Linked DNA regions of Homo sapiens. The protein of the gene in region 1 interacts with the protein of each later gene in a pairwise test. Each region holds a gene or a part of one and is shown on either strand. Other genes may lie near its edges. The genes, in order: EMP3, CLDN2, GJA5 and SLC35H1.

Region 1 (8,492 bases):
CAGGCACAAGCCACCACAACCTGGGTAATTTTTAAATTTTTGTAGAGACAGGGTTTCCCTATGTTGTCCAGGCTGGTCTTGAACTCCTGGGCTTAAGTGATCCTTCCTCCTCAGCCTCCCAAGGTGCTGGGATTACAGGTGTGAGCCACTGTGTCTGTCTGCTTTGCAGAATTTTAATGGATTTTCTACATAAACAACATGTTTACTGGGAATAGAGACACTTTTTCCTAATTTATTTCCCATGCCCTTTATTTCTTTTTCTTGCCTTCTTGCATTGGCTACTCCAGTAAAAGGTTGAATAGAAGTGGTGAGAGCAGACCACTTCCTTTAATCTTAGTTTTGCATTAAATCTTTCACACAGAACTTTAGATAGATGCAGCTCTATTCCTTTAGAACTCCAATGCACCTGGCCCCACCCCTTTAGAACCTTAAGTGGTTTCAGCCCCATCCCCTTGGAATTTGGATGAAATGGTCCCAGGCATCCATTCAGAGCACCAGCCCCATCTCCTTAGAGCTTTGGAAAAATACTCTTGTCTTCTCAGAATCTTGGGAGATTTTTCTCTATTCTTTTTTTTTTTTTTTTTTTTTGAGACAGAATCTTGCTCTGTTGCCCAGGCTGGAGTGCAGTAGTGCAATCTCAGCTCACTGCAACCTCCACCTCCTGGGTTCAAGCGATTCTTCTGCCTCAGCCTCCCAAGTAGCTGGGACTACAGGCGCACGCCACCATGCCCGGCTAATTTTTTTGTATTTTTAGTAGAGACGGGGTTTCATCATCTTGGCCAGGCTGGTCTCGAACTCCTGGCCTCGTGATCTACCCGCCTTGGCCTCCCCTCTCTATTCTTTAAACCTATAGCATGCTTTTATCTATATGGCCTCTTCAGAACAGGAGGTACTGGCTGGATGTGGTGGCTCACGCCTGTAATCTCAGCACTTTGGGAGGCTGAAGCAGGTGGATTAGCTGAAGTCAGAAGTTCAAGACCAGCCTGGCCAACATGGTGAAACCTGTCTCTACTAAAAATGCAAAATTAGCCAGGCGTGGTGGCACACACCTGCAGTCCCAGCTACTCGGGAGGCTGAGGCAGGAGAATTGCTCGGACCCCGGAGGGAGAGGTTGCAGTGAGCCAAGATTGCGCCACTGCACTCCAGCCTGGGCAACCAGAGGAAAACTCGGTCTCAAAAAACAAAAACAAAAAAAACAAGAGGTAGGTACATCCAGACAGGCGGGACATGCATTAGCCCTAGGCACTCAGCCACTCAGGCCTGGACCCCGCCCACTCCAACTTTGTTGGGGGAGGGTTCCCAATTCTCAGTCCCATGAGGACACGAAGGGTTTACCTTCCCCTTTGAAGACCAGTCCCGCCGCCCTCACCCCTCACCATTCTCGCTGACATTACTGCAGGCCCATGTTTTGGTGTCGTTGTTCCACGTGCAGTCGTACCAGAGATTCAGGGACTCTTTCCCAGGGAGAGTCCACCAGGACTGGGATGGACAGAGAACGAAACAAGGGGCAGGGTTAGGAAAGGAGAGGGGATAGGGTCAGGCAGACTGTGGGAAGGGCTGGGAAAAGGGCAGGGTATCTGGGATGGGGCAGAACTGGGGAGAGTTAGGATTTAATATGAGAGGGGGTAGGGTCAGGACAGGGAGGAGGCATCGGAGGTAGAGCTAAAAGGGTTAACCTGGTGGTTCATGCCTGTAATCCCAGCACTGTGGGAGGCCGAGGCAGGTGGATCACTTGAGGCCAGGGGTTCGAGACCAGCCTGGGCAACATGGTGAAACCCCGTCTCTACCAAAATAAAAAAATTAGCCGGGCTTGGTGGCAGGTGCCTCTAATCCCAGCTACTTGGGGGGCTGAGACAGGAGAATCGCTTGAACCCGGGAGGCCGAGGTTGCAGTGAGCCGAGATCGCACCACTGCACTCCAGCCTGGGGGACAGAGTGAGACCCTTGTCTCAAAATAAATGAAATAAAATAAAAAAGAAATACTAGGTAAAGGGGGTGGGGCCAGAATGCCTTTAGAGGAGGGGCGTGGCAAGATTCCAAAGGGGAACAGAAGGGCCCTGAGCTCCAAGTAGGCTTACCTTGTCCAAAGTGGCCACGAAAAGCAGTATAAGAATGAGGATGTGAAGGGCTGAGACCACCAGCAAGAGGAGTGACATGGCTGCAGTGGAAGCCTGGGGAGGGGGAGCAGGGGACGGAGTCTCAAGAGGTTGGCACAGGCCAGGCACACTCACGCCTATAACCCCAGCACTTTGGGAGGCCGAGGCGGGAGGATCACCTGAGGTCAGGAGATCGAGACCAGCCTGGCCAACATGGTGAAACCCCATCTCTACTAAAAATACAAAATTAGCTGGGTGTGGTGGTGCACACCTGTAATCCCAGCTACTCGGGAGGCTGAGGCAGGAGAATCACTGGAATCCAGGAGGCAAAGGTTGCAATGAGCCAAGATCATGCCATTGCACTCCAGCCTGGGTGACAGAGAAAGACTCCGTCTCAAAAAAAAAAAAAAATTTGGCATAAAGGCAGGTGAGATGTCTCCTGATGGAGGAAGGGCATGGGTGCAGACTCCTGGGTCTCTCAGGGAGGAGACCGCTGGGGCCTGGATTCCTGAGATCCCCATTGGCTGGAGGGGTGGAGAGGGCCAAAGATGGACTCTTGGGTTCCTTGAATGAGGAGGACTAGCAATGTGGCTCCTCTCTCCCCAGAACCCTGACTCTGGGTTACATACAGGCCAGATAGTGAAAATTCAAGTTGAGACCCCACCCTGCACCCCGACATCAGGATTGAGGAGCTGCCCCCAGCAACAGGCATTCTTGACTCACACCACTCCTCTCCTGGGTTGAGGGGAGGAGGGGGACCTGGTGAGTCATCTGGTGACTCATCCCCACCCCCCCCCATCTCTAAGCACCAGGGAAACCCCAGCCCCTGGCTATGTCCACGAGGTCCTCACCCCACCCTGCTGCCAGACTGGTGACTGTTGGACATCTTCTGGAGGAAATGGATAGGATTCGCGCTGGGGGGAAGAGAGGCCCAAGAAGGAGTTAGCCTCCCAGGACTCTTTGGTGCCCAGGAACAGGGGACCTAGAGGTCTCCCAGATTTGGGGTGTTCTCATGCAATGCCCTGATCTCAGGGACCCCAGAGGACAGTGGACACCGCTGAGGGAAAAACTGCAGGAAGTTTTCCAGTGGAGGGCTCTGCTGGGACCCCAAAACTTTGCCGGGCCCCACCCCTTCCCATATCCCCACCTCAAGTGCTAAGAGATCACTTATTAAATTAAAAGGATTTCCAAGAGTCAGGGACGTCTCTCCCAGCCTGGGGGTGTCCTTCCCAAACTGCTACATTCCCAAGTAAATTAAGAAGTCCCAGCCCTGAATAACGGACTGGAAACTTACCGAGAGCCGCGAAAAAAGTCAGAGCTGGAGTCGGAGTCTTGTCCCTCGCTCGGGCCTCCGTGCCCCGCCCTTCTCCTCCCTCCTTTCACCCTCCCGAGGCCCCCGCCTCTCTCACCGCCTTCCTCCCTCCCTTGCTCTCCCCTCCAATCCAGAACCCTTTCTCTCTCGCTCGCTCTCCTTCTGCGTCTCTTCTCTCCCTCCTGCCCTCACTGTCTGGGCCTCCTTCTCTCTTGCTCCCGTTTCTCTTTCTCTCCTCCTCTCAATATATACTGACCCTTTTATAAACCCACCCTCACCGCACCCAGCTGAGGTCGGCTGCCAGTGGGAGGGCCCAGGCACTCCGGTTCCTCTTTCTTTGGGCCCCCACCCAATCCCTCCAGACAGACATCATCTGGGGCTCCCTCCCAGGGTTGAGATGAGAAACTCTTGGAATGGGGTTCTTGGGGGGGGCAAGCGTCAGGGGTGGGAGGGCCCGATTCTCAGGACCCTTGAGTTTTGAGGTCTTGCCCTGGGGCCGGATGTCTGCTTTCCCTGATGGAGCTTGGAGCTGGATAGGAGTCTGGGAAAAGAGGCCAGATTTCTGTGGCATGGACTTGAGATTGGGCTGGTGAAGTTGGCCCCGTGGTGGGGGGTCAGAGGATGGGAGATGAAATTTGTGAAACTCGGCAGGGCGTTGTGGCTCACGCCTGTAATCCCAGCACTTTGGGAGGCCGAGACGGGCAGATCATCTGAGGTCAGGAGTTCGAGACCAGCCTGGCCAACATGGTGGAAACCCGTCTCTATCAAAAATACAAAAATTAGCCGGGCGTGGTGGCGGGCGACTGTAATCCCAGCTACTTGGGAGGCTGAGCCATGAGAATCGCTTGAACGCGAGAGGTGGAGGCTGCAGTGAGTTGAGTTTGCACCACTGCCTTCCAACCTGGGGGACAAAGTGAGATTCTGTCGCAAAAAAAAAACAAAACAAAACAAAAAACAAACAAACAAAAAAAAAAACCTTGTGAAACTCTGGAAGCGGGGAGGAAGCGGAAGCTAAGAATCCCAGCGCCATCATTTCCTGGTTCAGTGACCTTGAGCCAATTATTTCACCCACCTGGGCTCCAGTATCTTAGTCTATGTTGAGAGTATAATAATGCTGACAAAATACTAATACTGATAATAATAATTCTGATACTTATGCTGAATGAATAAGGTAATACTGGCACACTCACACACCTAACCTGTTCCTTCCTTCATCAAACATTTATTGAACATGTACTCTGATCTGGGAGTTAATAATGAAAACAGACATGAGCCCTGCTGGTATTATGGAGCTTGTATTCTAGTAGAGGAAGACAGACAAGAGAAAACATCAATGATGAAGATAAATCTCAGATAAGGATAAGTGACTTGAAAAATAAATACAATAGGCTGGACGTGGTGGCTCATGCCTGTAATCTCAGCACTTTGGGAGGCCAAGGCTGGAGGATCACCTGAGGTCGAGAGTTCAAGACCAGCCTGGCCAACATGGTGAAACCCTGTCTCTACTAAAAATACAAAAATTAGCCAGGCATGGTAGTGGGCGCCTGTAACCCAGCTACTCAGGAGGCTGAGACAGGAGAATTGCTTGAACCCGGGAGGCGGAGGTTGCAGTAAGCTGAAATCACGCTACTGCACTCCATCCTGGGTGACAGAGCAAGACTCCATCTTAAAGAAAAAAAAAAATAAAAGAAGAAAAGAAAAATAAATACAATAATAAATCAAACAGAGTGATGGAGATAATGACAGAGTGCAGGGAAGACTACTTGAAACAGGAAAATCAGGGAAGGCCTCTTGGAGGAGGTAACATTTGAGCTGAAGACAGGAGTCATTTGAACGCTGGGGTTGGGGAGTGGTGGGGGGGCGTCGGGGGGAGAGGAAGTGCAAAAGCTCTTAAAGCTTTTGAGAACAAGCTCAGGTTGTTTAGGGAGCAGACAGAAGGGCCAGTGTGGCTGGAGCACAGGGAGACAGAGGGAGTGGTGAGAAGGGAAATCAAAGGGTGCCCTTGAAGACTAGGGGAGGGGCTTGGATTTCATTCTAAGTGCAGTGGAAAGCCATTAGGTTTTAACAGAGTGTAGTACCAAAGATTTTTATTTTTTTTTTGAGATGGAGTCTTGCTCTGTCATCCAGGCTGGAGTGCAGTGGCATGATCTCAGCTCACTGCAACCTCCACCTCCCGGTTCAAGCGATTCTCCTGCCTCAGCCTCCTGAGTAGCTGGGATTACAGGTGCCCGCCACCACGCCCAGCCAATTTTTGTATTTTTAGTAGAGACGGGGGTTTCTCCATGTTGGCCAGGCTGGCCTCGAACTCCTGACCTCCAGTGATCTGCCTGCCTTGGCCTCCCAAAATGATGGGATTACAGGCGTAAGACACTGTGCCTGGCCCCAAAGGTTTACTGTTAACTATTATTATTAATTTTGGGGATATTAAATTAGGGTCGGGGTGATGACTACTATGTACACGAGTCTCTTGGGAGGGGACCAGGTGCCCAGAACTCTGATAAATTGAGAGCAGGGGAATTCAAATCCTGGATCCAGGGAAGGGAACTGGATGATGGGATGTCTGGGTATCTGATGGGCCAGAGCTGGGTTTGGGATAGCTGTTGGTGATTCGGGCTCCCTGAGGGGGTGAGGGATGGACAGTTCAGTGCTTGGCTGGGTACCCCAAGACCTGGAAGCTGGAATACCAGTATAGCACAGACTCTAGAGCCACACTGGTTGGACTCAAAATCCAAGCTGTTTTACTCAATGGCTGTGTAATTTTTGGCAAGTTACTAATAACTTCTCTATGCCTCAGTCTCTTCATCTGAAAAATAGAGATAATAGTAAATACATTATAGGGCAGTTCTTAGGGTAGTGCTAGTCATATCAGGCATTGGGGCTCTGAGTGGAGTCAGTACTGGGGGACCCTGATTCAGGATCTCTAGGAGTTGGGGAAGGGGCAAATTCTTGGGTCCATTGGGTCTCAAGGCTAAAGTTGGGAATCCAAAATGAGGGTCCCTGGGGGAGAATAAGTAGTCTCAAACTTAAGTGCCTGAGAGACAGAAACTGGGGTCCGCACTCAGATCCCTAAGGAAGTTGCAAAGTCTGGGTCACTGAAGGAAAAATTAGGGGCTGGGGAGACATACGTTCCTCTTGGGGAGCAGGAAAAGAGGGCTCCACTTTCTTGAGAGGACTAGGGGGAGCCAGGGGCTAGGAAGATGGAAACTTGAGCCGGGGAGGTGAAAAACACGAGTCTAGGACTCAGAATCAAGTTCCCTGAGTGGGATCGGCGCCAGGCTTGGGTACCCTGGGGATATTAGGGGGGTCCCCGCACTATGGCTATGTAGAAGGGGAAGAATCAAAGGATCTGAGGGTGGCGGCGGGATCTCCCCATCCTGGGCCTCCGAGATTATGAGCTGAGCTGAGCGTACGCAGGCCGCTTCCTCCCACAGGAAACCGCAGGCTTCGGGCACACCCAGCCTGCAGGGAGAGGCGCCCACTGCCCGCCCGCCCGGGGAGGCCCACGTGGGCAGCAGCCGCCGCCGCGGAGGGGGCGTGCCTTACAGAGCGAGTGGGTGTAACCAGAGGGGGCGTGGCCAGAAACCGGGGGGCGGTATGGAGTGCCCGAGGTCTCACCCACTTCCGCCCTCCAGCGCGCGGACGTGGTAGGCGGCCAAGCGTTTTTGGCTGCTTCCCGGGAAGCCGTTGGTCGCGCTTGCGTAGTGAACCGCTGAGGCTGTGTTGAGCGCTCCTTCTCCGCGCAACTCCCGGCTTCGACACCGCCTTCCTTCCTATGAATCCTTAATTTAACGTGGTCACAGTCAGCTTAAGACCGGCACCTCTCGGGCTCCGTCTTGTAGGACCTCGGCCTGGCTTCGAGGGCTTCCATACAGGTCACCGCAGGCTCTTTCAACTCCCGCCGCTTCCAGGCCCGCGGTACTAGTGAGACCTCAGCCTCGACCTCCCCAGGACCATTTCGACCTCCCGCAGGCCTTCAAGGCCTGAGCGCCTCCCGATTAGCCCGCCCTTCACCGCCCTTCCACCGGGCCCCTCGTAAGGCCTTCCAAACGCGACCCTCGAAGCCCGCCCCTTACGGGGAAGCCCCTCCGCTCGCTGTCTGCGAAGCCCCGTCCTGTACTGGTGTCCGTGCCCCTCCCCTCGCCGGCCCCGAAGCCCCGCCCCTCGAAGTTCTTCCCACTCACTCTCCTCACAGGTCTCAGCCCCGCCCATCACAGCTCCCTACGGCACGCCCCTCTCAGGCCTCACAGCCGTGCACCTCTCAGGGCTCCGCAGCACCGCTCCACAGGCCCTCCCGGCTCCGCCCCTTTCAGGACCTCGCCGCCCATCAGTTTTGTTTGTTTGTTTGTTTGTTTTTTGAGACGGAGTCTCGCTCTGTCGCCCAGGCTGGAGTGCAGTGGCGGGATCTCGGCTCACTGCAACCTCCGCCTCCCGGGTTCAAGCGATTCTCCTGCCCCAGCCTCCTGAGTAGCTGGGATTACAGGCACGAGCCGCCATGTCCGGCTAATTTTTTGTACTTTTAGTAGAGACGGGGTTTCACCATGTTGGCCAGGTTGGTCTCGAACTCGTGACCTCAAGTGATGCGCCCGCCTCGGCCTCCCAAAATGCTGGGATTGCAGGCGTGAGCCACCGCGCCTGGCCTTGCCCATCAGTTCTCAGTCCGTGGGAACCCTGCAGGTCTACGCCTCGCATCCTTCTCCGCCCCTCCTCCCATAGTTTCTCCCGCGGCCTCAGTCCCTCCCTGGCCGCTGTCCTCAGTCCTCATTGGTCCCTTATCTCCCCAGTAACCAGACCACAACACTGAACTTGGAGCACCAAGAACAGGTCAGGCCCGTCGGCAGGTAGGGCCCAGGACTCCCCCGACCCTGCCCAACCCCCACTACAGCAGGCCGGGGTTTCCCCCTCTCCTGCGACCAAACAGCCTGGCCTCAGATATCCTGAGAGCCCAGGAGGCCTGTCCCCTGCCAAACCCGCGCCAGAATCGGAGCCTAGACGCAAGACCCAGAGTGTGAGAGGTGGGAGGGCTGGAGAGGTGTGGGAGAGGCCTGAGAGAGGTCCCCCTCCAACCCCTCTTGGAGGAATGAGGCC
Region 2 (8,486 bases), on another chromosome or scaffold:
AATGTACCATCAGGTCTGCCTTCAAAAATAGACTGTGAATCCATCTACTTCTTTCTGTCGCCACTGCCCTAAACCATAGTTCAGACTATGCAACCATCGTTTCTTGTCTATTTGAAAATCTCATAGACACCTCAAATTGATCTCTCTAATTCCACTTCTGCCCCAATCCTGCAATAATGAATTACCTACCCAGTAGTCAAAGATCTTTGTAAAGTTGAAATCAAATTGTGACTTTCACCTCACGCTTTGCCATGCTTAAAAATCTTCAGGAGCTCAGCCGGGTGCGGTGGCTTACGCCTATAATCCCAGCACTTTGGGAGGCCGAGGCGGGCAGATCACGAGGTCAGGAGTTTGAGACCAGCCTGGCCAACATAGTGAAACCCCGTCTCTACGAAAAATACAAAAATTAGTTGGGCGTGGTGGCATGTGCCTGTAATCCCAGCTACTAGGGAGGCTGAGGCAGGAGAATCGCTGGAACCGGGAGGTGGAGGTTGCAGTGAGCCGAGATTGTGCCACTGCACTCCAGCCTGAGCGATAGAGCAAAACTTTGTCTCAAAAAAAAAAAAAAAAAAAAATCTTCAGAGCTCTTAAGTATTTCAGGATGAAGTTCAAACTTGCTAGCCCAGGAAACCAAGAAAGCCCTCCATTATTTCACCCCGGCTTTTCTTCACAGCCTCATCTCACACCATTAACCTCCAACCTCATGCTTTATGCTCCTATACATACACATATGATCCAGCCAAACCTAAGCACTTGAATTTCTCTGACTGCCTTTCTCTCTGTCTCCAAGCCCGTAAGCATGCTATTCTACCATCCACCATTTGCTTGGATAATTGCAAATCATCTTTGAGGATGCATCCTTGCCTTGAAACCATCCTTGGGCCCTCCCTGCTCCTCACCCAGGCTGGGTTCAATACTTTTCCTTTCTTCCTCCTATTTGTATCTGAGCTTTCAGTGAGAATTGGTGAGATACCTTGAGGTTTTCAAGGGGAAGACCTACTGCTTCCCAGAGGAGCAGCTCCTGCTTCAGCCTTCCTGGGATGGCAGCTGAAGAGTCAAGCTTGAGTTTCCCAAGGGAATCAACAGTGTCCCCAAGAGGAAAGCCTCTCCCCAGAGCCTGTCCTAAGTAGTAGTAAGTAGGCAAGTGTTTTGGGGTGAGGGAGAGGGCAGAGTCAAGAAAATGCCATTACTGAGGCTTGGAATCTCTAGAGTCTGACTTGGCATAGCAGCATGCCCAGGCAGGAGGAAGAACAAGTTATTGGAGCTTATTCAAGTGATAGAAATGGCCCCATGGAGGGGGGGTTCAGCTTTCCACCAGAGTTAGGAAGACCAGCTAAATGGCGAATGGTTGGGTGGTGAGACAGGCTGGATTCAGCCAGGTTTTTGTTTGTCTGATGAGCAGTAGAGGTGAGGGCAGACAGGGTCCTGGTGTTAGAATCAAAAGATCTAGCTTCTTGTTGTGTCAGTTCTGCCTAGAACCTGCTGAGGAAGTCCTATAGCTTCTCTAGGCCCTAGTTTGTCATCTCCAAGATTTTTAGTCTCAAATAAAGGCATGGGGACAGGAAGCCACTTTGACAAATATAGAAGACTGAAGAGCTGTTATTAGAAGCAGCCAGTTTTAATAGAAGCCTCTCTTTGAGGGATCCTCCTAGAAGTCAAGTACTGGCTGCGTTGGAGGTACAGAGGACTCTAGGCCTTGTCAGCTGAATTTGTCTTCTGGGCATAGGGCCAACATACTCCATGGCCCAAGGACTGGGCAAGAAAGTTTAACTTAGGATCCTTACTTAATCTTCCCTAGTGGGGAGATTGGAGCTGCAGGAGAGGATTAGGAGGGTCAAGATTGACCGCAGCTCCTGACTTAACCCCTTCTCACCTAGGTACTTTCCCTGCTATTCTCCCCATCTCTTGCTCCAAGAGTCTTGTGCATGGTACTCTTTCTTTGGCAGTACCCTCCTAAGACTACATGGGACAGGGCACTTGGGGTTCCCAGGCTCAAGGAAGGAACTGATGTGGCCTTCTGGGGGTGATGATGGCCACCACAGCCCTCTTCTGTCAGTCAGCCTCATTTCTATATCCCTTGATCTCACTGCCCCTCATAAGAATCTGAGACACTTGCCCCCTTCTCTGAAACTCACTTCCAGCTGCCAAGGGCACTAGTAGGTGGCAAAGCCATTCCCTTGAGGCCCTACTTTCTTGAAAGTTTGTCCTTAGAGCAGTTCATCTTTCCTTCTACATCAATTGATTGATGGCAGTTCAGAGAATTGCAACTGGATTGAGAGATTTTCTTATTGTTTGAAAAAGAAGTTGATTTTTGTCCTGATCATCAAAGTAAAGCATTCTCACTTTAGAACACTGGAAAACACAGAAAGGCAGAATTTAGAAAACAAAAATCGCCTACGATCTCCCCGGCCATAAGTGCTGTGAATGTTTTGGTTCCAACTGCATTTTCAAAGAGGGCACTTGAAGAGAGTAATACCTCAGTCGAAAGAAGGAATTTCTAATGACAGACTTGCAGACCAGTGAGGGAGAGTCCTTGAAGGACCTCATGGGGAAACTTTATGACTTCACTTAGGAACCCACCTTCTGCTACCTCCCTGAGCCTTCATGCCAAGGAGGGCACTGGAGCTGGCTGTGAGGGAGTGCCCCTTCTGCCACTCCTCAGTCCCCTACACTTAGGCAGAGGGGTAAACTGTGGCTCCCTTCCTCCAATTTTTATCCCAGTCCTTTTAAGCCCCCAAACCAGAAAATATCTGATTTGGAGAGTGCTTTCTCTGGTCCTGAAGTTTTAAAGATTTGAACCTTTGTGATAGCTTTGAGGGAACAAATACCACCAACCCAAATGCCACCGGAGTTTCCCCTCCCATACCCTTCACTCAGAAACCCAAGGTGGCCCAGCCTGGCTCCACCATGGGGTGAATGGATAGTGACTAGGAAGGAAGAGTGCCCACCTCGGTGAATTTAAAAGGCAGCAACTATATCAGGATGGAGATACTTACAGGGCAGTTCTTTGCAGAGCCTTGGAGGGGGAGATGCCCCTGGAGAGGGAGAAAGGGATCCTGAGGGAGGGGAGCGAAGTACAAGGGGCCACGGGCTGAGGTGATAAAGGATTTCTAATCGTTAACCACAGCTTTGCAAAATCCATCTGCAAATCTGAGCCGTGGGTCAGAGACTTATTACAGATCAGAATTAAACCCCTGGAGGCTGGGAAAGATTGAGGCACTTTAGAAAAAAAAAAAAAAAGGTTTGGTGGGTTTTCTGTGTGTGTTTTTTTTTTTCTGTCAAAAACTCCACTCCAGCTGGGCTTTTGTGTGGTGACCTCTGTGAACCCAGGAGAGGCCTTGTGGGGAGGGGGATTTGGCCCAAGAAGGAATTCAGAACATTCCAGCTTTGAGGGTGGTGAGAGGAGGGGGCTCTGTCCCACCAATTAGGTGTCCCTGGCTAGCAGCCCTGAAGCCCAGCAGGGAGTAAGCTGCATAAACACAGCCCTGGTGAGCCAGTGCCCAAGCAGCCCTGCATGGCCTGCAGCTCCATAGACTTTTCTACTCAGCTTGATTCTCTGGCAGGCCCTCAGCCCTACCCCACCCCTAAGGTTGGTCCCAAGGCTCAAGGGCAAACATGGGTACTGTAGGTTCAGACTCTGAGTTCAAAGAGCAGGTCCTACAAGGTGGAACTGAGTAGGCCAGCATAAGGACAGGGCTCTCCTTTTTACCACACATGGCAGTGCCATGCACTATGTCATTTAAGCCTCTCAAAAGTGCTGTGAAGGCCGTGTGCAGTGGCTCACGCCTGTAATCCCAGCACTTTGGGAGGCCGAGGCGGGTGGATCACCTGAGGTCAGGAGTTCGAAAACAGCCTGGCCAACGCGGTTAAACCTTGTCTCTACTAAAAATACAAAAATTAGCTGGATGTGGTGGTGCGCACCTGTAGTCCCAGCTACACGGGAAGCTGAGGCAGGAGAATCACTTGGACCCAGGAGGCGGAGGTTGCAATGAGCCGAGATCATACCACTGCACTCCAGCCTGGGTGACAGAGTGAGACTCCATCTCAAAAAAGCAAAGCAAACAAACAAAAACCCAAACAACAACAGAAATAAAACCAAACCAAAACAAACAAACAAAAAAACATGCTGTGGAGTAGTAGAGCGCAGTGACTGGCTTTACTCTCCCAACGCAAAAAAGCTTTCTAGTTTTTTCTAAGTAGAAAAATACTAGATGCTATTGAAAAGAATTCAGAAAATGAATTATAAAGAAGAAAATAGAGGTCCTCATAATGCCACCAGCCAGAAATAATCATTGCTAACATTTTGATGTATTGTAGAAGATATCGATGGGATTTGTTTTATAAAATTGAATCACACTATACCTACAGTTTATGTAACCTTACATCATTTGTAAATAACATATCGTGGACCTATTTCCATGTCAATTAAAACACAGAACTACATCATTCTGTCATGGCTGCACTGCATTCTATCATATAAAATATGATTTATTTAATCGTAAACTACTAGACGTTTTGTTATTTTCATTTTCACTATAACCCAGCATCTTTGCACATAATACTGACAAAGTCTTAAGAATAGAATTGCTAGGTGAAAGAGTGTGCATGTTTTAAAGGCCAATACAACATGTTACAAAAATAAGACAGCCATTACTATTTCCAGATGAGGAAACCTCGGCCCAATGAGATGAAAAGAGTTGCCCAACATCCCAAGTTGAGCAGTAATAGTTAGACTTGGAATCTAGGTCTGTAGATATCTAGCTTGGCAAACTTTGCAGTGTACAACACCAACTCCCTCCCAAGGATTCCCATGTACAAATGATAAGGCCACGGTTCATTGAACACTTGCTAGGTGCCAGGCACTGTGCTGAGGTGTTTCCTATCCATGGTCTCACTGTGCTAGTACAGAGCAAGGCCTGGGTACCAAACCTGGCCACCTCTAGAGCTTGCCTCATAGTCATTATGCTTGACTCTATTTTTCAAGTCATATCAAAGCAAACAGTCGGATTTGTTGCCTAGGGTGAACTCAGTGAAGCAAACCAGAAATCATCCTCCTTCCCAAGGCGGCCCATCCCTACCTTGCAGGTACAAATGGGGCACTGATCCCCTGGCAGTGCTCCTGAGCAAGGGTCTCTCCAGGGCACTCCCTCTTGGCAGGCTGGGACACGCTAAAAGGGCAGCCATGCCTGAGCTCAGGCCTGGGGAGTCTTTGGGCATGAAAGCAAGCAAGGCTGAAGGGGTGGGAGGGATACCAGGCTAATCCTCTAACCAACTATGTGACCTCAGGCAAGCCTCTCCATTTTCTTTTCCCAGGCTTCACCCAGCCGAATTCCCAAGGCTGGGTGAATGAATGTGAATGCATTTTGACAAGTAGAAAATGCTGATTGAATGCAGAATGTAGTAGAGGGGCACCTTATCAGTTCATAGTGACTGTGCAATTGAGGATAGGAAAAGGCAGAATCTTAGGGGCAGGTGCCAGGGCGGATGAGGAGACTGTGTTGGCAGGATGTGGTTTCCAGATTGGCAATCATTCAAGGACTGGGTTCTAACACTGTGTTTCCTTCAGGTCGGCATTGTCAGATCCTGGTGGAATCATGCCAAATACTATGACTCCTCAGTGTTGAGCCTAGGAGGTTCTTTAGTAATCCTTCTGCCAAGACCCCTGCTGAGATCCAAAGAGCTTAGATGGGTGCGGGAATGGAGAGGGGGCTGAAAGAACAGGAAAGAATAGCAGTCTGAGAAAAGCAGCATTTAGTTCAGGAGACAAGTGAGTAGGGAGAGAATAAAGGGAGGGAAATAAGAGTATGGGAAGAGGTGGTTTGGGGGAAGAGAAAAGGAGAAGAGAGAAAAAGGGTCTTTGAGGAAGAAAATCAAAGAGAGCTCTGTAGAAAGCAAGGTCTTGAAGGGCAGGGAGGAAATGATGCTATGAAAAGAGGAGTCTAGAAGGAGAAGTAAGAGACTCTAAGGAAGAGGGTGTAGGGATGGACTCTGGGAGAAGGAGTTAGGGTCTAGGGCAGAGAGAGACTTAGAGACATTTCACCCTCACTGTTCCACCAAAAGAAGTTCTTGTCACAGTTACCAATGACCGCATGTCACCAAATCCAATGGCCACTTTTTAGTCCTTAATTTCCATGACCTCTATGCAACATTCAATGCCCTTGATAACCTTGTCTTCCTTGAAATACTTTCTCCTCTTGGCCTCTGTGATAACAACACTCCTCTGGTTTCCCTCTTATCTTTCTGGGTACTTCTTCATTGGTACCTCTGCCTCTGCCAGACCCTTAAATATGGGCACTTCTCAGGAGCCTGACCTAAGTCCTCGTTCCTCACTCTGCATTCCCATTCTGGGAAGTCTCATTTATCCTCTGTGGTTTCAGTTATCCTCTATCATCTGACGACTTCCAAATCATCATTTTCAGCCCAGACTTCTCTGGGCTTCAGACCTTTATATACTGGCATCTCCATTTGGATAGCTGAAAGTTGTCTCAAATGCAACATGTCCAGGGTCTTGCTCTGTTGCCTGGACTGGAATGCAAGTGGCATGATCACAGCTCACAATAACCTTGAACTCCTGGACTGAAGGGATCCTCCTGCCTTAGCCTTCCAAGTAGCTGAGACTACAAGCATGTGCCGCCACGCCCAGCTAATTTTTATAATTTTTTTGTAGAGATGGGGTCTCACTATATTGCACAGGTTAGTCTCAAACTCCTAGGCTCAAGCCAGCCTCCTGCTTCAGCCCCTCAAAGCGCTGGGATTACAGGTGTGAGCCACTATGCCCAGCCTCAAAATTGTATCCTTGATTTCCCTTTGAACTGAAATCAGTCCTCCTTCAGTCTTCTCCCTTTGAGAAAGCCAATTGTTTAAGCCAGAAACCTCAGAGTTAGCCTTAATTCCACTTTCTCTGACCCTCATTGTATCAGACCTGTAAATCTTTCCCATTCTACCTCCAAAATTTAGCTTTTTTGTCCATCTGCTGGTTTCGACTTCCACTCCCCTTAGCATCATCTCTCACCGGGATGCAATACCCTTCTGATTTTCCTATTTCTCCTTTTGGCTTTCTACAGTCCATTCTCCACATAGTAGTATGATTTGGCCCCTACCTAGCTCTCCAAACTGGTTTTGTACTACTCTCCTCACTCCCCACTCTCCCGACTGGCTTCCTTTCAGTTTCTCAAGCCTACAATGCTCTCCCTTCCCTCTAGGCCTTTACAAGTCCTGTTCCTTCTGCCTGGAACTCTTTGTGGACCCTGGCCCTACTCCACCTTCAGCTGGTTTTGTCTGGAAAACTCCTTATCCTTTAGGGCTCAGCTTAACGGTTGCTTCCCTGATTCCTGGGGTCTCTTGGTTGGATATTCCTCCTCTATGCTCCCAAAGCATCTTGTTATCCCCCCACCAATTGTCTTGGGTTGTATTTGTTGTTGCTACTCCTGCATAGGACTGTGAATGCCTGAAGGGTTTGGCTTTTTTTTTTTTTTCTTAATTCAACTTTTATTTCAGGTTCAGGGGTATATGTGCAGGTTTGTTATATAGGTAAACATGTCATGGGGGTTTGTTGTGCACATTGGGTTTGGCTTTCAATTGTTATTTTCATCACTATTCTAGTCTAATACATAGTAGGTGCACCATTGAATTGATGGAATCAGACTGAGAAGAGATTGTGGTAAGAAGGGAAACACTAGATGGGTCTGGGAAGAAAGGGGTCCAGGAGAAGAGGAAGGAGAGACAAAATGATTATGTAAGAGAAAGGTGGGTGAAGAAGAGAAGTTCTGGGAGGGGAGGCAGGAGAAGGGCTCATGAAGACATGTCTGGGAGGAAAGAGAGAATAAAGGTTTGAGAGGCAATGGATAAGCAGATCTAGGAGGAGAAATGTTGAGCAAGGGCTTCCTAAGCACTAATGCACAGACTTAAGAAGAAAGGAAGGGAGTGGTAGAGGATCACCAATAGGAGAAAACTAAGGCCAATGTAGCAAGATTTGTAAATTATTTAAAGCTTATTCAATTTAAAAGACTACTTGTAATTCCGGACTTATTCTTTGAATAGTTGGTATTAAGGTTTCTTTTGTAAAATAAGAGGTGGTAGTATTTTTCAATGCCCTTAATTAACAAAATTAAAAGTTTGAAAACCATATGTTGATTCTCCCTCATTTTAAAAAATTTTGTAATTCCACTGGTCCACAAAAATCCCAATTGAGGAGAGCTCTGGGAAGAGCACATTCTGTCAATGGGTCTCAACATTTTGGTCTCAGGACCACTTTACATTCTTATTTAGGAAATGACCTAAATGTCTTTCAACTAGTGAACGAATAAACTGGTACATCTGTGTAATGGAATACTACTTCACAATCAAAAGGAATGTACTATTGATACACACAGCTACATGGGTGAAGCTCAAATGTATTATGCTGAATGAAAGAAGCCAGACTCAAAAAGCTGCTTACTGTTATGTTCTATTTATATGACATTCTTGAAATGACACTACTTAGGGAT
Region 3 (7,311 bases), on another chromosome or scaffold:
GGGGAAATTCCACTGGCCTCAGTGGCTGATGATCTGGTCAGGGTTCGAGAGAGGACAACAGCTTCTTGGATATTCCTGTTGGTAAGGCCTTCAGGGAATGGCTGGGTGAACAGCCAAGGGAGAAAGGGAAGGGATGGTTTCTATCATTGGATTGAACTGTAAAGGAGCTGCAGGGTGACAGATGTTGGCAGGAATTCCAGTAGAGTTTGTGTGTACAGTGACTCCCTAGCAGGGCTGACACCTGCACAGGCTAGGTGTACACCCTAGCAGAAGGAAAGGTTGCAACATCACCAAGGTGGGGCATTTGCCAGAGGTACATACCAGGGCATTTGCCAGAGGTACATACCAAGGCATTTGTAAAGCTGAGGCTGCTGGTAAAGTTCCAAGAAGCCCTTTTTAAGGCTGAGTAGAGGGAGGAGAAGCCAAGGGCAACCCAAGGCCATCTCACCACTACTCCGAGGAATGGTCCATGGAGACAACAGATTCAAGAGCACATATAATGCAAGTTCCTTGATTCATGCTGTCTATTGGCTGGGAACTTTGAGCTCTTCCTTGGAGGAGGGAGGGTGATCAGGTCAAGGAGGTAGGAACTTAGAGAACGCATTTGGTATGCTGCTGGTATGTAGAGAGAGAGTCATTCTATCCCTCTGGCTATCCCTTCCAGGCCAGCTTTTGCCATGCTTCCCTTCTTTCCCTCTACCCTGTTTCATGAGTAATCTGAAAGGCTTCGTATACTGGGTAGAGGGTGGGGAGGGAACTGCAGTCTGGGTGGGTTGTCACCTCTCTTACTATCCCAGAGCCCTGGTTATAGTTTCTAGAATTAATGAGCAACGTCATTGAGACCCGGGGCTCAAAGGAGCCAAGCAGTGATGACAGTGAGAAAGCATCAGTTCAGAAGGGACACGTCTTTCCTCTCTGAGCCTCCTTTGTTCCCACCTGGTCCTGATCCTCCCATAAAGGAGGGTCACACTGATAGGTCATCTGACCTTGCCTTGCTGCTGGCCTTACTAAGACGTCGCTTGTCACTATGATAGCCATGGGGAAGGCGGTGACCTGGTGAGACTCCATTGGGCACCTCAGGCTTCTGGCCATAACGAACCTGGATGAAACCTTCCCCAGGAGTCTGCTCCTGACCTCGTACTTGCTCGGTGACCAGGTTGTCTGTGTTTTGTTGGGAGGCCATATTATTGCTGAAGGGATTGAAGAATTTTCCCCCAGGGCCATTCTCCAGGCACTGATTAAAGTCGGGGGGTGGTGTGCAGCTCTGGACTATGCCCACAGAGGGGCCAGAAAGCTGGCACTTAGCCATGTGCTGCCGCGGTTTGACAAATCGCTGTCTGATCTTCTTCCAGCCCAGGTGGTAGAGTTCAGCCAGGCTAAGGAGGAGGGACAGTGCAGCCACAGCCAGCATAAAGACAATGAAGACATTCTTCTCTGTGGGCCGGGATACGTAACAGTTGACCGGGTGGGGACAGGGACTCCTGCGGCAGACATGCAGGGTGGTCAGGAAGATTCCGTAGATGAAGTACTGGCCCACAATGAAGCCCACCTCCATGGTGGTGCGGATCAGGATGCTGCACACATAGGTGTTGAGCAGAGTGCCCTGGAGGGCAATCCTTCCATTCCCTTCCTCCCAGCAGGACAGTTCTGCCTTCTCTGCCACCGGGTACTCGTAAGAGCCAGAGCCCCGGACCTCTTTGGCCCTCTCGGCCTCCCGTAGCTTGCGCTTCTCCTGCATGCGCACAGTGTGCATGGCGTGGCCCATGTACACCAGAGAGGGCGTGGAGACGAAGATGATCTGCAGCACCCAGTAGCGAATGTGGGAGATGGGGAAAGCCTGGTCGTAGCAGACATTCTGGCAGCCAGGCTGAATCGTATCACACCGGAAATCAGCCTGCTCATCCCCCCAGGAAGACTCAGCAGCTGTGCCCAGCACGAGCATACGGAATATGAAGAGGACAGTGAGCCAGACCTTGCCTACCACGGTCGAGTGCTTGTGTACTTCCTCCAGGAAATTTCCCAGGAAGCTCCAATCGCCCATCTTGGCACAGCCAGGGAACAGATGCCAAAACTTCTGCAAATGGGAGAGAGAGAAAGAGAGAAAAGAAGAAGGATGTTCTGTGAAGGTCTGGAATGTCTATCATGTTCTGGGATTCCACTGATCCATCCATCCAATGGGTTCTTTAAGAAAATGCAACTTAGAAGTCAAAGCAACCAACGAAAAGCTCGCTCTCCTTTCCCAGCAAAAATAAAAAGAAAGAGAAGATTCAAAGTAGCCATATTAGCAAAATTAGAGCATGGCTCCCACACTTTAACGGATCTAGAAATCGTGGTGTGTGTTACAATATGGATTCTGCTCTTGCCCCAGTAATTCTACTTCAGGAGGTCTGGGATGGCCCCCAGGAATCTGGATTTACAACAAGCAGCCCAAGTAATTCTGATGCAGGCGGTGAGGGACCGCACCTGGAGAAACACGAGTATTAAAAAGAACACAAGACTGGGGTCTGCAAATGTGACTCTGGGCATTTACCTCACTGAGTCTGTTTCTTCATTTATCGAATGGGGATGGGAATAGCTACACCAGAGAATTCTGAGGATTAAATGATATGAGGTGTGTGATATTCTGAAAATCATTCCACAACTGTTCCAAATGTTTAAATGGCTGTTGGATGGAAAAGGAATTTTTTTATGGCTCCAGAGGGCAGAACTAGGTGGAGGAGGAAAGAGTGAGGATGGGATTGGCAAATTTGGCCCCTCAGGAAGCACTCTGCAAAAATCAGAACCATCCAGCATGGACCAGCTGTGTTGGGAGGTGGCAAACAAAAAGTGTGCTTTGGTCACACCAGCTAACAGTATCACAGATGAGTGCTCACTTCCCCTGGCTGGTAAGGCAATGTTGATCTCCCATGCCTCGGTGCAACACAGCCATTCCAGCCACACAGCTCAGCTCGCCCTGCTGCTAAGTTTCTGTGTCTCATTTAAATAAGGTTCCCACACACAGATCTGCCCACCCTTATGTCCAGAATAAATGTCCCAAAACTTTATGTCCCTTACAAAATCCTCCCTCATCTGGCCTTTGTCTGCTTTTCCAGCCTGTTCCTGCCTGTCCACATGAGTTCCTTTTGTCCAGCCATGCCAAGTCTTCCCAAATGCCCTCCTTCTGTACCCCTACATGTCCCCTCACCCCTAGCTGAATCCCATTTACCTTTCAAAACTTAACCCAGTCATTGCCTCCTCCAGCCCTCCCTCCTCCCTCAAGCTGAGCCTCTTCAGCTCCTGTGATGGCCCCCGGGACACTTACTCGTCTCCCAGTGCTTGCTGCCTTGTGTTGTAATCCTCTGCCTGTCTGTGTTCTCCCAGGAGGGACTGTTTGAAAATGGAGACTGTCTTTTCTTCTGTATCACCAGAGCCTGGCCCAGAGTAGGTGTTTAATATATCTTAGTTGAGTGAATGAAGGAGGGGCTGACAGGCACTGTTGTTTCCTACCCAATAGAAAACCAATTCCCTGTTTCTTGCCTGCCTCCCATTGGCAGGGTGAAAAAGCCAGGTATCACTTTCTTAATCTCCTCTGCAGTTAGTTCTGGTAGGTGAGGTATGGGGAGAATCTAAAGTAGAGGGAATGCTCCAGAAAAGGTTTTTCTACCCCCCAGTAAATGGAGAGAGCCTCACTCACAGTGCTCCCATCCCCCTGTGAACAAGAGGGAACCTCACTCACAGTGCTCCCATCCCCTGGTGAACAGGAGGGAGACTACTCACAGTGCTCCCATCCCCCGGTGAATAGGAGTGAGCCTCACTTAGCCCCACCGCTTCCTGCCTGTGGACAGAGTTGTATGAACCAAGATGTCTAAAGCTGTCCAGAGAATCTCAGAAATGTCAACCAGTGCCCTGAGGCCTCTGAAGCAACTCTTGAGGCTCCCTACCTCCAGAATTCTTACTTAGTGAATAACGAATGTTCTTACAGTTTAAGCCTCTAACCATTCCTAACCAACAGGATGACAAACGTCTCGGAGGGAATGGAGCATAAATATTCCTTTCTTAGAATCATAAACCTCAGATTTGGGTGGGTCCTTAGAGGTTTGTCAAATTCAAACTTTGACCGTCATATCTTTGCTGCCAACGTGCTCCTGGTTTCTGTCTGAACATTCTTCATGCTTATGGGGAAAGATGGGGTCAGGGTGGTGCATTTCATAGTCCAGGCTTCCTCAGCTCTTGAGTTGATTGTTGCCTTGACAGGGACCAACCTCCTGGCCCTGTATTCTCTCAGACCCCAGGTCCCCAAACTTGAGAGTATACAGTGTCCCTGGGAATGAGGGAGTTCCTGAGTGAGCGGAAAGCATCTTATCTCTGCTCCTCTCTATATCAAAGACCCATGCAGGTCTTGAGGCCTTTCCTGTCATTTGTGATCAGACATCTGCCCCATTTCCTTAGGTGGCGAAGCGCCCCCTCTTTCAGCCTCCAAATGTGGAAAATTGTGGAGCATGTGCTCAAAAGGAAAATGGCTGATTAGATAAGAGTTTGAATTGTCTGTCCTCTCTTCTGGGCACATGTACAGTGTTCAGCACCTTCAGGGTCAGCCACACACGTGCAGTGACTGAACTATGGTAAATGTCTGAGAAAAAGAGGGAGGGAGAGAAGGGGAGGAATAAAAAGAAGAGAAGAAAAGGGAAGGACAAGGGAGAGTTGGAAATGGAGAAAAAGACCATGTAGGGTTAAGAAAAGACAGATGCAGGAGTTAGCTTACTGAGGTTTGACAAATTTCTATTACCATCTGCTGGGCTTAGATAAATGATTCAATCTGTGTTCCACTTTCCTCACCTGCAAAATGGACATACTATTAACTCATAGAGTGCTATGAGATGATGCGTGCAAAGCACTTAACACAGTGTTCAGCAAATAAGAACTGAATAAAAGGTAGCCATTACTAGCAACAAGAGCAGTGGGGAAGGATGAGAGTAGAAGAAGGAGGGAAAAAGAGAAAGCAGAAAGTAGAGAAAGGTGCATTACAAAGGAGAAAAGAAATGGGAGCAAGAGTAGAAGGGGAGGAAATGAGAGGAAAATGGAAATAGAAAAAAAAAGAAACAAATGTCATATTCTTCCAGGATTTGGGGCAAGTTTTCCACACTCAGTCCCTGAAGACTTCTCCCTTGATCTTCTCACTCTGTCACTCATTCCTTGCAAGTCCCCAAGGAAGTATAAAAATAGTTCCAGGCAAAGAATGTGACCCTTTGGTCTAGTCTGCCAAGAGGCTTGACTGCTGACTCCTTCACTGCTGTCCAAGGAATTCCACCTGGAAGAGGTAAAGCACAGATACAAGAAAGGAACACCTTGGAAAACCAGAAAGGCAGTATTAGGAAGGATATCTTATTGGGAGGGAAAAAGAGAAACTATCTGAGGAGGTATAGGGGTGAGGCAGACCTCCTGGGCCCAGGCAGAGGAAATAGGGTGAAGGGTTTTTCATGTATGACTTCCTGCTGACGCTCAGGCAAGGTCAGAGAAACTTAAAATAGCTACCATGTACCAGATGCTCAGTTTATAATGTGAAAGGTCTCTGGCTGTAGTTACTTTTCCAGCTACGTTGGCTCCCTTTGGATACCCCATCTCAGCCAAAGAAATTTGTAGATTAGATACTCAGTGAGTTTACTGGGCGTATAGCATATAAAATACTTTGTAGATTATTATCTGCTTCTTGGCAGGAAGTGTATTAGGAGGGGCAAAGGAAGCTGCCCATGCCATGAATAAATGCTATCAAACACAATGGCAATTTACCTCACTGCTTTAGCAGTTATCCTCACTGGCTTCCTACCACTTAGAAAGTCCAAACTGCTTAACTTGCCATGTGAAACCCTGTACAGTCTTATGCTATCATTTTTCCACTTTTCCACTCACACACTCAATACTTAAGCTACACAATTTCACATGTACTTATGTGCATCTCACCATTTCTCACCCATTTATCTTGGCTTCTTATGTTCCCTCTGCCTAGAATGTCCTTTTTAAAATTCATTTAATACGTTTATTGAGTGGCTACAGGGTGCCAGCCATCATTCTGGACAATGAGGATACAGCAGGAAGGAGGGGAAACAAACAAGGGATTCCCTGACTTCACTGAGTGTAACTGCCTTTATACCCCTTTATTAACAGCAGACATTAAATACATGATTTCAGTAAAACACAATGTGTGTTAACATAAAGGAAGTATAAGGTGTCATGGGAATGTGGGGCAGGAGCCTGAATCTGGTTTTTGGGTTTTGGGGAGAGTCCTAGGGAATTGCGTTCTAAAGCCCTCTGCCACTGATACAAGTTCTGAAATCAGCAAGGCAAAAAGAGATGGTCCCTAGAACCTGGAAGAGAACCATCCCAACTCTAAAGGTTCTTCACTCCCAAACCTTCAACATCCTCTTTCAACTTGTCCTATCCTGAGATAAAGCAAATTTTGGAGGGGCCACTAGGAAACTTGTTTGGCAATAGCAACATGGTGCTTAGATAAGAGGAAGAGGGCCAGAGGAAGGATTTTGTGTATAGTGAGCATGAATCATTTTATGATTTTATTTCATGTACTGTATGGCCAATGACCAGAAATAAAGCTCAGGCACCTACATTCTGAATCCAGTGCTTCTTTTTTTCTTTTTTGAGATGAAGTCTCGCTTTGTCACCCAGGCTGGAGTGCAGTGGCACCATCTCAGCTCACTGCAACCTCTGCCTCCCAGTTTCAAGCAATTCTCCCTGCCTTAGCCTCTGGAGTAGCTGGGATTACAGGTGTGTGCCACCACACCTGGTTAGTTTTTGTATTTTTAGTAGAGAAGGGGTTTCACCATGTTGGCCAGGCTGGTCTCAAATTCCTGACCTCAGTTGATCCTCCCGCCTTGGCCTCCCAAAGTGCTGGGATTACAGGCATGACCCACCATGCCCGGCCCAGTGCTCCTTCTCGTGGTCCCCCTACACGGCCAGTGTTTTTCAAAGAAAATCATTTCAGAGCAACCCAGATTAATCATAAACTCATAGCCAGAACCTCTTCCTCTGACTCCGCAAATCTACAGCAAAATGGATAAGTCTTCTAAAATTGACCTCAGCCCTCTTTGGTGTCCCCTGAACTCCAGAAGACTGAGCATCTGGTACATGGTAGCAATTTTAATTACCATCCAGCATGGAGGATACATCCTCACACTTGGTTATATATTTCCTTAGACTTGTTTTCCAAACATTTGTCTATCAGCCAACCTGCAGATACTTTGCTGAGTCCCCTTTATGTGCCTACCACTGTTCTGAGTAATGAGAACAGTACCAAAGAGGTGCAAGGCCTGACACACACTG
Region 4 (7,511 bases), on another chromosome or scaffold:
AACAGGCTCGGAGAAGATCAGCAACGTGTCCAAAAGCACGCAGCTAATCACAGCAAAGAGAGACACGTCTCTCACTCTACGGCGTCTGCAGGTTGTATCCTTAGCCATCGTTATGCTTAACCACTTGGAACTTAGTTTCCACAGCTAGGAAAGAAATACAATCAGTCCTTACTGCACCGGGCTGTTACAGATTAAATAACCTATGGCAAAGGCCTAGATGGTGCCCAGTGAACGGTCTTTTCTGTTCTTTCTTCCCCATTCCCCAGCCCACTGCCTCATCACTTTCCTGGGCTGGGAGGAAGGCTGACTCCAAAAATGAATGTCTCTGTCCCCAAGTCCGGCAGTGTCTGCCATGTAGCCAGTACTCACTGAATGCTGTCGACCTAAATGGATGGCCTGGGAGTCCCCACCCTCAGTCCATCACTAGTGTGTGATGCAGGAAGCTGCAGCAAGTACCATGAGGAGAATTCTCTTGGTGCCATGTAACTACTCTCAAGCCACTGGGATTTTCAGGTTTTTCACAGCAGGATAAAGCAGAAACAGATGGAGACAATCCCTTGAGCCCTCAAGGCAGAAAAGGGTACCGGAGTGAAGATGAAGGTATGCCGGGCCCTGCCTGATGGCTCAGGTCCCTCCCACAGGCAAACTGCAGCCCATTCTCACCGCCACCACAACACCAACTGTGGACGTCCTCACATATTGGAGCCATTAACCTTCCTTCCACTGTGGGCCCCTGGGAGAGGTGGTGGGCAGGTAAGCACTTGAAACTCGAACCTGCAGGTCAGTCCTCTCTCCGCCCCTTCTGCAGAAGCCTCGGAGCTGGGGCTGTGTGGGGACAGACACCACAGCCTTGGAGAGACAAGTCACATCCTCAGCTTCCCCTCAACCTGTGCAAGCACCGCGTTGCCATGGTGATGCTGCAGCCCTGAGATGCAATGGCTGCAGACAGCATGGGTGGTTCTAGGGCTCAATGCCGAGGTGGACGCTGTCTGGCCTGGGAGGCCAGGCGATTGGGTGGGCTGGGTGGGGGAGGAGAGGGAGCCCTCCTTTAGGTTCAGCTGGTAATTGCTGCTAAATGAAGGGCTGTCATTGAACCCAACATGTGCGAGGTAAGGGCCCCCGCTCTGCACCTTGTAATTACTGCACCAGACAGCAACGCTTGCTCCCTGTGCTGGGAGGCGGGCAGTGGGGGAGCAGACAGGAAGCTCTCATCCACCTGAGCCAGCGGGGCTCTGGCAGACTCCCCCTGCCGCCCAAGCAGCCTGCATCCCAAGCAGCCTCTAAGACGGAGGAGGCCCTGGCCCCCCTCCTTGGCTGGCTCTTCCCACATCATCCAGCTGGAGCACGAGCCTCCTTTAATCTTGGCCTCTGAGCTTGCGGAATCCAAGGGGGGCAGAGGTGCAGGAGCCAGATAAGAGGCCGCTTCCAAGCGCCCTTGGTGCTCCACCTCCGCCTGCTGAGTCTGTGCTGGGAATCTGAATTAGAGGCAGATCTCGGTCTGACTCCTGAGCACGGAGGCTCTGAGGGCCTCGGGCTAGTCACCGCCCCCTCCTGGCTTCAGTCTCCTGCTGCAGAAGTGGAAGTTGGACTCGAGAATTCTTGAGGGTTCTCCTGCTGGTAAACTTCAGCCAGCAAGCTGGATCCTACTTTTGTAAATGGGGTTTCACTGGGACAGCCACACCCTGGGTCTGTGTCATCTATGGCTGCTTTTGTGCTACGATGGCAGAGTAGCTGCAACAGACGCCATATGGTCCCCAAACCCCAAATATTTACTATCTGGCCCTTTACAGGAAGTTTGCAGACCCATTTTTAAAGTATTAAAGTTCTCCTGGGCTTAACCGAACGAGCTTTAGTGACTCCAACCTGATGGAAACAATTTTAGAACAAGCCCTATCCTTGTCCCCACCCATGGATACCCACTGTCCTCTTCCAAGCACCCCTTTTCTGCCGGTGTCTGGATAGCCGTGGCAGGGCAGCTGGGCTCTGGGAGCCAGTGTGGTGCAATGGCGCCACCTGCTGTGAGTGCCTAGGAGCACTTCGCCTGGAAAGCTTTGTCCCCAAGGGCCGGGGGGGTCTCCCATGGCCCGGGAACCAGTTTACAGGAGTAGACTCAGTCCACAGCACATCAGAGCTGGGGTCTTGCCCCCTCCCTTCCTCATTTGAGAGAGGCCTGCAGTCTAGAGAAGACGTGGGACTTGGCCAAGGAGGAGTGGAAAGCCCAAGCCCCAGGGGCCCATGAAGTTCCAGGAGGCTGTGTGGATGTCACGTGCAGCACGTGCACACACAGACGTACACAGACTTGGATGTGAACCTCAGCCCGGCCACTTAAGCAGCTCTTTATCTTTTCCAGGCTTTAGTCTCTTAGTTGTTAAAAGGATTAAAAGAAATGCTTATATAACATTTAATCTGTTACTAATAATGACTCAATCTTCAAAAGGACTCTGAGATAGACATTATCCCCATTTCACAGATTAAAAAACTACGGCACAGACAGGTTAGGTCATTTGCTTAGGGTCACACAGCTAGTGACAAAGCCAGTATTCAAACTAGGCTGTGAAAACATGTAAGGTCTCCAGAATGCAGTACTCAGTAAACATTCATTTATTTCCTGCCAGCAGGTGCAGTGGGGCCCCACTGGGGAGGGGACTGGTGTTCTAACAGGAGCGAGAAAATGAAGGAGGCCTGGCTTAAGACCAGACATTTGAAGAAGGCTCCAGGCAGGGAAAGGAAAGGAGAGGCCAGGCCCACACTGTCCCCTCCCTGCCCCCACGTCTCCAGCAACACAAGGCGGCCAGTGGACCGTGAACCATTTATTTCCAAACTATAAAGAAACCTGCTCTCTGAGAAAAGACACTGCCCAGGTGATGAAGCTCCAGCCCCTGGAGGTCCAAAACCCAGTCCAAACTCAGTCCCTTTAGAAAGCTGCTGTGCCTTGGAAATGAGTCTCGGCTGTCAGAGCCTGGGAAGTGGTGGGAAGAACCAGCCCACTCCCCTCTCCTGCTGCGATTCCAGCGCAGCTTGGGCCCAGCTCTGGCCAGTCCCAGGCTGGCCTGGTGCTCGCCCCTTGTGTGACCAGGCTCTGAAGGGAGGGGCAAAAGTCATGAGTCCCTGGCTTGGCCCCACCACCTGGTGACTCCCGTCCACAGCTCCCAGCTACCATGATGAGCCCTGGCGGCTTGAGCACAGTGAGTGCTGGCAGCAGGCTGGGGAGTGGCCTGCTTCTAAGCCATTTGCCCTGGCTGGTCACTGCTGCCCCTGGGCCACAAAGTACTCCTCCTCCTCATTGTCACCTTCCTCCCGCTGGCTGCTCCGGAGCAGCAGCTCCAGGTCGGGGCTGGAGCCCAGCCCCTTCAAGGCCTTGGGGCCACCATCACCTTGGGATAGAGAGAGACCACAGTTACAGGCCCAGTCGTGGTTTTCTTGGTTTGCTCTGATTTGCATGTGTGCTGAGTCACCCAGGCCCCACCCACCCACTCTGGAGATGACCCCCACATCTTCCTAGAGGAGTGACGGCAGCAGAGCCACCGGGCACACTTCCTGCATCAGAATCACTAAGAGTCACAGGGAGAAGAACAGAAAACAGAGGCTTCTGGAAGGGACTCTGGGTTACCTCTGGAATGCAGGGCTTTGAGGGCAACGTGGAGGGATATTCCCGAGAGGCAGAGGGCGAAGCCCAGCCAGTTCAGGAGGCTGATCTGATCGCCCAGCAGATGAGCTGCCAACAGCAAAGTGCAGACTTCCTGGGGGCAGAGAAGCAGGAGGGAGCATGATCAACAGGCAGATTTGGCTGCTTGACCAGGAGGGTGGAAGGTGGGGGCACTAGGTACACTCAGGTGGGCAGATCAAGATCTTACTGAAATCCTGGGCCCAGGCAGGCAGAGAGGTCAGGGGACCCGGCCGGCTTGCGGCGCTGTCCCGCCAGCCTCCTTTTGTGAGATGCAACAAAGGAGGTGCTTGTCATGGAATTCTGTCAGGAATAAAAGAGGCAAACCAGATCCCAGGCTGGGGACCAGGGTGTCCAGATCGCGCCTTATCCACAAGGATAAAGGACGGCTGCCCCAGAAGGCAGCCACAGAAGAGAGCCCTGAGCCTATGTGTGAGAATGCTGTGTTACCCCGGACTGAAGACACAACTGGTCCCGGGGCTCTCTATAAACAGAGACTCCAAACAGGACTGGCAAGGCCGTTCATCCAAGAACCACAGCCATGCCTCAGCATGCGGCTGGCCACCAGAAGACCCTTGGACAGGCCTGCATTTCTGGGTTTAGGCAACACTGCTTCAACACTGGTGTGTGCCTGGCCAAAGAGAAAAGTCCCTCCCTGCCCCTGAACAGGGAGGACTGTTGAAATGTGTGGGAGGGAGAAGGAGAAGTGAGAAGAGGTATGAGAGGGAAGGACAGGCCTGCGAGGCAGAGGTACAGCAAGGCTGGCCACAGGGGTGCTTTCTCAGGGTCTCACTAGCCCTGGCCATGGCCTTGGAGGACACCGCCAGTCAATCACGGAACTCTTTCCTGATGAGTCTGGATAGGGGCTGTTCAACCTGTGGCTCCAGGCCACTGCCCAGTGCCAGAGTTGGCAGTCAAGGTAAAATGTGAATGCATTCCAGGCCTAGCAGAGTCAGAGCTGGCTTTGAGGCCCCTGCTGTGCCCTTGGGGAGGGGCGGCTCTCCATCTGTGTCCCTGTCTGTGGGATGGGAGTGATCATACCCTCTCACAGGGCTGTGGTCAAGGCAGAAGGAGGGGCCAGCACAGCACTCAGCAAAGTGCCTGGCACCTAATGGGGCACTTCCTTCTCTTCTCTGCAGGGCCCTGGGGTGCAGGAGCTGGGACTGAAGCTGCTGGTGAGAAACCCCTGGGGGCTCCCTCTCTAAGACAGGACTGGCATCACGCCCGAGTCTGTACCTTAAAAATGCCGGCAATGGAGAGAGTGAGGCTGGAGGTTCTGGAGACCAGGAGGAACTCAGAGAAGCCCAAACCAAAGGCGAGAATCCCGCCAAGGAAGAGGCTCCCAAGTACCCGCAGGAGCAGCCCTGTGTCCTGGAAACGGAAGATTTTCTCAGATGTGGACAAATGGAGACCTGAAAGCAACAGGGAGAGAGAGTGGGAGGCCGGGTCCTGGGCTGCCTTGGCCAGCCCAATGCCAACCACACAAGATCTTCCACTGTAGTAGTGAGTTCTTACTGAGACCTGCTAACTGTCTGCAGCCCAGAGAAAAAGCATGGAAGGTATAAAGTGATCCCACACAGATGGCCTGAGACCTGGGGAAACCAGGGAAGCAGTGATGGCTGCCAGAGCGCCTGGGGGCAATACAAGCCAGATCCTAGCAGGATGATGCGGATCCTAGCGGGATGATGGGACCCTAGCGGGATGATGGGGATCCTAGCAGGATGATGGGATCCTAGCGGGATGATGGGGATCCTAGCGGGATGATGGGATCCTAGCGGGATGATGATGGGATCCTAGCGGGATGACGATGGGATCCTAGCGGGATGACGATGGGATCCTAGCGGGATGACGATGGGATCCTAGTGGAATGATGGGGATCCTAGTGGGATGATGATGGGATCCTAGCGGGATGAAGGAGATCCCAGTGGGATGAAGGAGATCCTAGCGGGATGATGGAGATCCTAGTGGGATGATGGGGATCCTAGCGGAATGATGGGGAGGGCTCGTCTGAGCCTCTGGGGTGAAGTAGAGGGGGGTGGCCCTGCATGGAAAGACGGATGGAAGTGCCCTGCACCTTTGGACAGTATTCCCTTACTGGTCTGTGGGGAGGGGCTCATGGCTGCTGACTTCATGGGGTCTTTGGAGCTGTGGTAACTACTGGGCTAAAGAAGGTAGGGCGGCTACCAAGTGACGAAGGACCAACAGTGCCCCAGCCCACTCAGGGAACTCCTTGGTCTACATTTCAGCCAGTTCACCTACAAACAGGGACAAAATTCTATCCCTACAAACGTTCATTTTAATCTAGGTCTTGCTAGTACAGAGCTGTGGGACTTGGGCTGAGATGTGTCCCCTTTCTGGACCTCAGTTTCCTTACTGATAAAATGAGAGGCCTGGGACCAGACTGGTATTTCTCCAACCCGTGGTATCACTTGATGAACATTTCCCAAAAAGAAAATGCAAACACATGGCCCCTTGCTCCAGAAACACAGGCATGCACACCCCCTACCCCAAATTCAGCTTAGACTTTCGGAGGAGTCATGGTCCCTCCAACACTGTCCATCTGGAAGAATGACTCCCGGCGTCCCTCCCACACGAAAGTCCTCGTGGTGTATTAGCACAGGGTGAAGGGGGGCCCAGAACTGGGCACAAGAGACAACTGTGGTAGCTGGAAGCTGGACGAGTATTTTGAGATTTTTGGAGGGAAGCACCAAAGAAATGCCGAGTGACAGTCCCCCCAGGCAAAACAGCCTCACAGTGTAGGACATCTTGTTTGGTGCTGGGCTCAGCAGAACTGCAAAGGCGTCGGCAAATTGAAGGGAATTCGGGGAAGAGCAGCATAAGTAATGAAGGCGCTTGGGGGATTAATTTACCAGAAAAGATTAAAGGAGCTAAATCCATGCAGCTTTGCCAAGTGACGACTACCAGGGGCTTTCAGATGAGGTTTTGCAGAGATGGGGCATGGTGTAAACACACGGGAGGGGAGGGAGAGTGTGGCGTTTGGTACAAGGGGGCATAATGAAGGAGTGGGGAGAGATTTTAAAGAAGGAAAAAAAACGAGGCCCTGAACAGAAGTTTCCTGGACAACGGGGCTTCAGAATAATTTTCTTGGGGAGGTTCAAGACGCTTCACTGCTTGAAACTTAAATGGATGTGGGACAGAATTTTCTGTAATGACCCTGAGGGCATTACAGACGGGACTCTGGGAGGAAGGATAAACAGAAAGGGGACAAAGGCTAATCCCAAAACATCAAAGAAAGGAAGGTGGCGTCACACCTCCCAGCCTACACAGTTCTCCAGGGCTCTCCTCATCCCTGGAGGACGACAGTGGAGGAACAACTGACCATGTCCCCAGGCTCCTGTGTGCTGGCTCCTGGTCTTCAGCCCCCAGCTCTGGAAGCCCACCCTCTGCTGATCCTGCGTGGCCCACACTCCTTGAACACACATCCCCAGGTTATATTCCTGGACATGGCTGAACCTCCTATTCCTACTTCCGAGATGCCTTGCTCCCTGCAGCCTGCCAAAATCCCACTCACCCTCCAAACCACGGCCTGGGAAGCCTTTCTGACTTGCCTGATTACTCCAGCATCTTGGAACAATCCCTGATTCCCCATTCCTTAGAGGCAAGATAGGGTGGTTAAGAGTAGGGCTGGACCACTTGGAGCCAGGCTGCTGGCTTCAAATTCTGGCTCATTTACGAGCTATGGGACCTTGGGCAAGTTATCTTTACTTCTCTGGGCCTCATTTTGTTCTACCTGCAAAATGGGGGATAATAATAGTACTGCCACACCAGGTTTTTGGAAGGATGAAATGAGTTCCTATGTTTAAAAAGATCAGAACAGCCCTGGTGC

The links.
Region 2: the proteins of EMP3 (region 1) and CLDN2 interact in binary tests that used the Homo sapiens proteins (3 or more experiments, as listed by UniProt).
Region 3: the proteins of EMP3 (region 1) and GJA5 interact in binary tests that used the Homo sapiens proteins (3 or more experiments, as listed by UniProt).
Region 4: the proteins of EMP3 (region 1) and SLC35H1 interact in binary tests that used the Homo sapiens proteins (3 or more experiments, as listed by UniProt).

The regions. Positions count from the first base shown.
Region 1 is NC_000019.10:48,320,508-48,328,999, reverse strand, and holds the start of EMP3 (epithelial membrane protein 3), read right to left. Parts: upstream 3,449-8,492; 5' UTR 3,390-3,448; intron 3,010-3,389; exon of another isoform or gene 2,947-3,009; intron 2,171-2,946; 5' UTR 2,156-2,170; coding exon 2,078-2,155; intron 1,480-2,077; coding exon 1,377-1,479; intron 1-1,376. UniProt on the Homo sapiens protein: Probably involved in cell proliferation and cell-cell interactions.
Region 2 is NC_000023.11:106,915,062-106,923,547, reverse strand, and holds the start of CLDN2 (claudin-2), read right to left. Parts: upstream 3,147-8,486; 5' UTR 2,997-3,146; intron 1-2,996. UniProt on the Homo sapiens protein: Forms paracellular channels: polymerizes in tight junction strands with cation- and water-selective channels through the strands, conveying epithelial permeability in a process known as paracellular tight junction permeability.
Region 3 is NC_000001.11:147,757,198-147,764,508, forward strand, and holds the start of GJA5 (gap junction alpha-5 protein), read right to left. Parts: upstream 3,406-7,311; 5' UTR 3,302-3,405; intron 2,075-3,301; 5' UTR 2,042-2,074; coding exon 965-2,041; 3' UTR 1-964.
Region 4 is NC_000020.11:46,347,151-46,354,661, forward strand, and holds part of SLC35H1 (solute carrier family 35 member C2), read right to left. Parts: intron 5,077-7,511; coding exon 4,901-5,076; intron 3,741-4,900; coding exon 3,611-3,740; intron 3,375-3,610; coding exon 3,244-3,374; 3' UTR 1-3,243.